2 separate regions of the Homo sapiens genome follow, and region 1 is linked to region 2. Evidence: fine-mapped expression QTL. Tissue or cell type: sigmoid colon. Region 2 holds a variant in brackets; the other region holds the start of a gene. All regions are shown on one strand. Distances are between the middles of the regions.

The links.
Region 1: it holds the start of PJA2, and the variant in region 2 is fine-mapped to the expression of PJA2 in sigmoid colon (GTEx, PIP above 0.99). The same link has a PIP of 0.9 or more in thyroid, tibial nerve and visceral fat.

Annotation. Positions count from the first base shown.
Region 1 is chr5:109,407,822-109,412,219 of GRCh38, reverse strand. PJA2 (praja ring finger ubiquitin ligase 2) reads left to right here and starts at 2,246. Exons shown (of 10, transcript NM_014819.5): 1 at 2,246-2,378. RefSeq lists enhancers at 1,612-1,791, 2,902-3,021, 3,062-3,161 and a silencer at 2,302-2,381.
Region 2 is chr5:109,379,013-109,383,410 of GRCh38, reverse strand. PJA2 (praja ring finger ubiquitin ligase 2) reads left to right here. Exons shown (of 10, transcript NM_014819.5): 2 at 1-8; 3 at 1,708-1,908; 4 at 4,157-4,398. Among named protein-coding and RNA genes, the nearest start is that of PJA2, 29 kb to the left of the region's middle. The variant T/C (reference allele first, on the strand shown) is at 1,784.

The DNA.
Region 1 (4,398 bases), 29 kb before region 2:
AATCAACAATAATACATATAAGCGAATAATACATACTATTATCTCTATATAGTAATACAATACATAAGCTAATATGTATTTAGTACTTCATTGTAGGTATGATATGCTTTACATTGATTAGGTTATTTAATCTATACAACTCATGAATTGGTATTATTACTTTCCCATATTTATAATAAACTGGAAATCGAGGTCAGAGAACAAAGTAGATTGCCCAGAGGCACACGGCTACAAATGCAGGAGCCAGTATGTGAATATGTCTGCTTGATTCTAGAGTACAGGCTTTTTCAGCCTCCATACCAGTGTTTCTCATAGTAACATAGATCACTTATGATGCCTTGGTTAACTGTAGTTGGGACACGCATGCAGGATTAAAAACAATGACTCATATAGTGAGAAAGTGATTGCTATTCCGGCTCTATTTTTTCTATCCTTTGATGACATCATGATAAAAATACCATTTGAGTGCTGTATCTTTAATGTGTGTCTAATGCTTGGTAGCTTGCCCTTTTAACAAAGACAGTTGTCTTTAGACTTAGAGCCTTTAGTGGACAACAGTTTCTAGCCACAATTTAAAAACATTGTTTTGCATTCATTTTTCTTACAGTTACTTTCAACTTATAATAGGTGATGCTAGTTTTCCATTTATAGTACTTTTATAAAGTCTCCTTCTTAAAGAAATTAAAGAAAATATACATTTATTTAAAGAAAAAAGGACAGTGAGTAGTATACACAGATACAGTATGAAAAAGGTTGAAATTTGGGAATCCCTGCCTTCTAGAACAGGTTAATGTATCCAGTTGGGCCAATCTGGAACACCCTAAAGGGAAACTAGGGAAATGTAATTAAAATATGAATTTTGTTTTTTTTCAAAGAGGTACTTGGATGGTTAAAGTCAGAACTCCTATAGCAACACGTGTGAAGGCAGAGTAATATCAAGCAAGGAATGGTTTTTTGGTAAGAAACGTACTACAGGAGTGGGCTGGGATTCAGATTGGATTTCACAAAATGTCTGGCAAATTCTCATAAACCTAAATTTCTACAGTAAATTTTGGGTAATTTATTTCCATCAACAGCAAAAAAAAATTAGTCTCAGTTCACTGGCAAGAGAGTTCGCTGTTGTTAAGGGGACAGCACAAGAAGTGGGGCTCTTAATTCGCGGGGGAGGGGTGGCGATGAATATATCCTGGGCATCAGGCGACGGGTCGGGGGTGGGGAATAAGAGAAGACAGAGGGACTGTAATCAGATAAGCGGACACGTTTCAAGATGAATAAAGGGAATATGTGCGGAACGAAGAAACAGTTTTGTATCACTGACATAATTAACTAAACTGTTACCCAGGTTTAAATTAAGCAAGGTGTCCGGGGACTGCAGCTGTTGTATTTATTTTGGTTGCATGTGATGGGAGCTGTTACTTCCCGGCTTGACAAACAGCCTCAAGATGCAAGCTGGGAGGCTGTGGTCAGCCCAAGGCTATACAGAGGAAAGGCAGGCCTCCTCTGAACCCCGCCCCAGCAGAATAAGAAGCGAGGGGCAAGGGTCAGCGCGGAGAGGGAGGGTGGAAAGCGCCATATAGTGCCCAGGGTCAGGGTGGGTAAACAAGCCTTTCTTCGTGTCATTTTTTTTTTTTGTCTCACCGATATCTGCATTGTAACTGAACTTTATGCCAGGAGACCTTAACCTTGTTAATCAGGTTTCCAGTCGAATCAGGATCGATTTTAATGCCTCCATTTTGGTTGTTGCTGTTGGAATTTCCGAAAAAGCCTAACTGCGCCAGTCTTTCTGTTAGTTCTCCACACCCCCTTCCCTTTCCGAGACCCCGCCCTTTTCTCTCAGCCCAAACCACAAAAGGCCGCGCAGTTTTAGCTCCTACACGGTGCTCCGCCCCCTCCCCAAACGTCGCAGTACTGCAGGGAAAGGAGGTGGGCTCGGCTGGGGCGGGGGACTGAGTCGGCTTCGTCTTTCCGCTCTTCAGCCAATTGGTGAACTCCCCCTGAGGGAGATGGGGGAGCAGGCTGTAGAGAAGGTCCAAGTATTTTTCCCTTTTTCTGCCACGTCCCAACCATTGACGTGAGCCCACTCCTCAGGTTCTGATTGGGCGTATGCATTGTCCCCCAGCAGAGACCCTGTAAGCTGACTGGTCATCTCTGCTATGGGGGAGGGGCTTGCGTACTCTCCTCCTTCGCCTCCACCGCGGCGCAAGGGGCGGGACTCACCGCCACCGCCTCTGCTTCCGCCGCCGCCACCGCCGCCGCCGCCGCCACAGCCGCCAGCCGCTTCGCGTTCGGCGGGGGAGGAGTTGGAGGCGGAGAAGAAGGCGGTGGTGGCGGGTGGAGGTTCGAGCGCTGTTCTCGCTCCGGAGCCGCTGCACATTTCGGTGAGGGTTTTTTTTTTTTTTTTTCAGTCTGGCTTGTTCCGCTGTCGGGAGTGTGGGGGTCGGGGCGAGGAAATTGCTGCGTTCAGCTCCTCAGTTTCTCTGTCTCTAGCTTCGGAAGGAGCGGGGCTTGTCCCTGGCCTGCTGCGCCGGCCATGGTGGGTGGGGTTGATGGCTGTGGGAGGCCTTCTTCGCCTCCTGGGCCCTGTCCAGCCCGGACCCGGGCCGCGCTCCTATCCGGGACGGTCGCGCCCGCCGCCCCCCGACAGATGACATTGGTTGGTATCGGGGTCTTCGCTGCCGCTCTTTACTGCTGCCTCTTCTGCTGTCCTTGGTGACTTGGCCAAGGAGCCCGCTGGCTTTCCCCTACACTCGCCACTGTACAAGAGTTTGCCCCCCAACCAACACCTCACACCCACCTTCTGCGGTTTCCCGTCACCCCGCGTAGAGCGGAACCATCTTACGCCACAGGCCTGCAGCACCCCTCCCCCGAGGAGCCTTCTGTTGCCGTCGTTTTGCTGGGCGTCTGCATTTTCCCCGATTGTCAGTGAGGCTCGGCACGCAGACACCCCGCTCGAGCCGCAGCAGTCGCTCTACTCCCGGGATCAGCACCTTTCCGCCAGGGCTGCTCTCAGTTAGCGATGTCAGGCCAGAGCTCCTCTTGCAGATGCACCTTTAATTTGGCCTCCCTCAGATGACTGGTAATCATTTTGCGCACATTCAAAATGGTGAGGTTAAAGACGCTCAGACCAAGTTGAAGCAAAGGGGAGGTGGTAAATAGTCGTTTTGCAGGGAGGAGAGTAATCTGAGAGTTCCTTCTCCGGACATTAAAAAAAAAAAAATTTACATCCGCATAGGCGCTTCTTTTGAGTCTGCTGGTTCTGTGAAGTTTAAAATTTTCATTGCAGGCTTAATGTATTCTGTTTTATCATGAAATATTTGGTCACATTTCTTTAAAATGGCAGTCACCTTTGCTGAAGGCTACGGATCATTTGAAGTGTATGTGAATAAACCTGAGGATAACAGTAATAAACGTTTAAACTGTATTTTTCAGTGTTGTAATTGTCTTTTGGGGTTCATGTCATTTTTATATGAGATGACCACTTAATTTTAAAAATTCATTGCAGACATGCAAGTTTGATGTACACTTCAACAATATAAATAACGGACTGTTAGGTAAAATTTAAATATTTCTTTTCATCCCCCAGTCCCACTCCAGTGTAAAGTTGACAGTTTAGTGTTCATTTTTCAAAATCTTGCAAATGCACTTCTAGACACATACAAGTACACGTAAAGTTTTTTTTTTTGAGGGAGGCTATACCATATACCAAACATGTTTGCATACCGCTTGCTTATTGACTTAATTACATATGTTGGACATTTTTACTTTTTACATATAGGTCTCCCTAATACTTTTTAAAAGGCTAACTGGTATCTCGTGAGTTTGAATGGGCTATAATTTATTCTATTCCCTTTTTGAAAGACATTTAATTGCAGTTTCTTTTTGCTATTACAAATGATGATTTATAATGAAAATAACTTTCTAATTTATTGATCGATGTTTAATTACAAATTTTAATTCATCCTTGATTTTAAAAAATTAAACAGTATGGAAGAATGTAAGGTAAAAATTACCGCTTCCACTTCTAGTCCTGCTTGCATCTTGATTGTCAGCCACTGTTAACAATTCAGTAAACTTCCTCTATGTGTGATTATTTCTGGAGCATGGGTTCCTAGAAGTGAAGTTGCTCAGTTAAAAGATTATGCATATTTTAAATTTTGGTAACCCTTTCTCCCTCTTTATTACTCTTGTTGAAAATATTCTTGAATGTTTCTTATGCATTTCTTCTTCTAGGTAAACTTTAGACTGAACTAAAAATCCTTAGCTATTTTGAATAAGGTTATATTGAAATTTTAGATTAATTTGGAGACAACTGATCTTTATAGTATTGAGTCTCTCTCCTCAGAAATGTGGCCTCTCCATTTTATTCACATCTTGTTTTATACTGTTAGGGAAATTTTT
Region 2 (4,398 bases):
GCCAGCAGGTAAGGAAAGTCAGTTCTTCTACATTGAGTACTTCTTGTTTTTTCCTCTGGGTACCTTGAGTACCAGTAAGTGACATATGATCATCTGACCTGTGGTCTTACTAAAAGGCTGGTTTTGATCCATATATTGAATATTTGTAAAGCTTAGTTTCTAATTTTTGATAGGTAAAAATAGAAATTCTGGTATTTTCTTTCCATACCCATTTAGCTTGGAAAGCTTTATGCTTTCCACTTCGGAGACTATTCTTTTGGTAGAATTGTTAAGGGCATTGGTTCTGGAGTCATACTTTTGGATTATTAGACAAGTTATCCAACACTTAATTTTAACTTTAATTTTTCAATTTTTAAAATAGAATACAATATCCACCTCAAGATTACTGATGGGATTAAATAAGTGTAACACTTGATATTATTTATACTCGATATGTGCGTGTATTATAAATACATGTTTGTTTCTGTTTCCTTCTTGGAAGTGATTATATTTCTTATTTTAATACAACTAAGAAATTATGTAACTGTTTCATTCATTCATTTATTCATTTTTTTTTTTTTTTTGAGATGGAGTTTCGAACTGTCACCCAAGCTGGAGTGCAGTGGCACAGTCTTGGCTCACTGCAACCTCCGCCTCCTGGGTTCAAGTGATTCTCATGCCTCAGCTTCCTGAGTAGCTGGAATTATGGGCATGTGCCACCACGTCTGGCTAATTTTTGTATTTTTAGTAGAGACGGGGTTTCGCCATGTTGGCTAGGCTGATCTCGAACTCCTGGCCTCAAGTGATCCGACTGCCTCATCCTCCCAAAGTACCGGGATTACAGGCATGAGCCACCATGCCCAGCAACTGTTGCATTTATTGACTATACCATATGCTGTGAGAAAATATTTTGTTTAGTTGCTGTGTAGTACATGTAATGTATAATTGACTAAGCAGACTTACACTTAATATATATATGTGTGTGTATAATAATGTACTACTTAGTGAAAGTTGCTGCTGTTTACTACTGTATACCCCTCAGTCAACAAAACTTAATTGTCAAGTCATGTAAATGTTGATGGCTTTTCTTACCATAACATATACCATTTATTGGTAGTTTTGAAGGCAGGGTAGTATGTGTTTGACCTGGCTCATTGCTGTTTTCTTTTGGATAGTTTTATCTGACGTTAATCTTTGGAACATATTTATTGTGATCTAGTTGATTCTTCATGGTACAGATACCATTTAAAGAGGTTACTTGTTATCTTTGACATAAATGTTTTCATTCTTAAAGTAATTGAAACCATCATATCATAATGCTAGTAATTGATTCATCAAATATGTATTGAGCACTTATATTAATATAATATATAAGGTACTTAATTTGGAAGATCTCCCATAAAGAGCTTTGGCAGTATAATAATTTGGCATATGAAAAATATTTTTTGATAGGTTTCATTATAAAAATCTGAAATACCTTAAAGAAACCAAATTTTAAAACATATTTTTTGAAGGGAAAAGGCCACTAACTCTTATTATATAGTACTTCATATTTAATTTTCTAGTGTGTGAAGAATAATGTTTTATAGTACTAGTAAGGTACACTTCATGTTCAGAAGCATATGATTTGATAAATAATAAAATATAAACTGAAGTAGTTTTCCCCAACAGGTTGCAAGAATAAAGCTCATTGCTGTTCCTGTTTTAATTTTTTAACTTTTTTTTCAGCAATGGACCAAGAATCTGGTAAGGCTGTCTGGCCCAAACCAGCAGGAGGGTATCAGACAATTACAGGCAGGAGATA[T/C]GGAAGAAGACATGCTTATGTCAGTTTTAAACCATGTATGACCAGACATGAAAGAAGCTTAGGTCGGGCTGGTGATGACTATGAAGTGTTGGAACTAGATGATGTTCCAAAGGAAAATTCCTCAGGTGTGTAACATTTAATTATTTAAAGGTTATTAATAGTTATATAGGAATTGATCTTATAATTAAATTTTTGGGTGGGTATTATGCATGTCTGTGAGTGTAAATGCAGCACACTTCCTATCAAGAAATTCTATTTTGAAATTCTTATTGAATTTAATATTAATGGTGTATATATTTAAACATTGTAGAAGAAAATAGAATACAGCCAATCATTAAAATATAACCACACTCTCATAGTAGTGATTACGTTGTCATAACCTCCAGCCAAAGGAAATCATCTTTGAATCAAAAAGATATATTTTGAAATTTTTAAAAATGTGGATCAAGTAGAGATATTTTTTCCCTGCATATAATATTTAAATAACTTTTCTTCTTCTTCTTTTTTTTTTTTTGAGATGGAGTCACGTTCTGTTGCCCAGGATGGACTGCAGTAGTGCATCTTGGCTGACTGCAACCTCCATCTCCCAGGTTCAAACAATTCTTGTGCCTCAGCCTCCTTAGTAGCTGGGATTACAGGTGTTTGTCACTGCACCCAGCTAATTTTTGTATTTTTAGTAGAGACAGGGTTTCACCACGTTGGCCAGGCTGATCTCAAACTCCTGACCTCTCAAGTGATCCACCTGTCTTGGCTGGCTTCCCAAAGTGCTGGGATTACAGGTGTGAGTCACCATGCCTGGCGTTCTTTTTTTTTTTTTTTTTTTGAGATGGAATCTTACTTTGTCATCCAGGCTGGTGTGCAGTGACGTGATCTGGGCTCCCTGCAGCCTCCACCTCCTGGGTTCAAGTGGTTCTCCTGCCTCAGCCTCCCAAGTAGCTGGGACTACAGGCATGCGCCTCCACGCCTAATTTTTGTATTTTTTGGTAGAGATGGGGTTTTGCCATGTTGCCCAGGCTGGTCTCGAACTCCTGACCTCAAGTGGTCCGTCCAACTCAGCCTCCCAAAGTGCTGGGATTACAGACATGGGCCATTGTGCCCGGCCAACTTTTCTTCTTTTAATTTTATCCTAAATTTAACTTGGCTTGTTTATTTTTTCATCATTTTACAAAATCCAAAGGACAAGGAAGGCTTATTCAATTAAAATTTCTTAGTTATTCAATGGTTTTGAAAAAGTATTTTGCAGCTATCCATGTACCATAATTGCACATTTTTGGACTGGATTTGTCTTCTTCCTCTTGTTCTAAGCAAACTTGACAAGACATTTCTAGATTATTTTTGCTGTCATATGTAAGAATCTGAATTACTAGCTAGGGTCATCCCATTGAAGAACCCTTCGTTCCCAGCTACTTGGGAGGCTGAGGCAGGAGAATGGTGTGAACCTGGGAGGCGGAGCTTGCAGTGAGCCGAGATCATGCCACTGCACTCCAGCCTGGGCCACAGAGCAAGACTCCGTCTCAAAAAAAAAAAAAAAAAAAAAAAAAGAACCCTTCGTACCATATATCAAAGAACCCTTCGTACCATATATCATGGCCGAACTTCAGTTATTTTACAATTCATGAATTTTTATTCCAGCAAATCTCAAATGTCTTCATTTTTTTTATTAGTGGTGATGCAAGATAGTTATGCTTAAAGTAATTTATAGATATGATTTTACTCATGTTTCAGAATTCTCACAATTATGACAAGAATCAACATATTGATCTCTTTGTTGTTTTTCAGTCATAACTATAACACATCTAAAGTAAACTTATTACAAATGTATTACAACAATTCAATTTATAATCTGTCGAGATACTGAGATATAATTTTGTGAATTGCCAACAAAACACAATAGGGTCTAATTTCTCTTAAATCTGTAACTATAGTTATTATATCTGTCATAAGTACTTTTGAAGGTTTTTTGTTTTGTTGTTGTTTTTACCTGCATATAATAAAGAAGGTAAGTTTGGAAATCACTGGGAAGCAGATTGGTTACCCTAGACTCCACTTACGAGAGGCTTCCCATTGTATAACCTCTCAAGAGCTTCTCCTTTATATGTCTTGCAGAAGGCATTAGATATTAGGATTTAGATAGAAAACTGCCAAAGCCATGTGAGGGAGATGATAGTGAAAGGCTGTACATTGACATAAATGAACTCATAGAGTAATCAGTCTGCATTCTCAGTTAAGGAGCATAGAAGTGCTTGGTAAATAAATTTACTCATGTATTCAAGTAGTAATAATTGGTATGATTTCCACTTAAGTGATAGTTATTACATAAAATTTTATCTAAGTTAATCCTTTAAAATATGTTTTCTTTTGTTTTTTATGAAGGTTCCAGTCCTTTGGATCAAGTTGATTCTTCTTTACCCAGTGAACCTATATTTGAAAAAAGTGAAACAGAAATTCCCACTTGTGGTTCAGCATTGAATCAAACCACTGAGAGCAGTCAATCCTTTGTTGCAGTACATCACAGTGAGGAAGGCAGGGATACCTTAGGAAGCAGTACAAATCTTCATAATCACTCTGAGGGAGAGTATATTCCAGGAGCTTGTAGTGCTTCAAGTGTCCAAAAT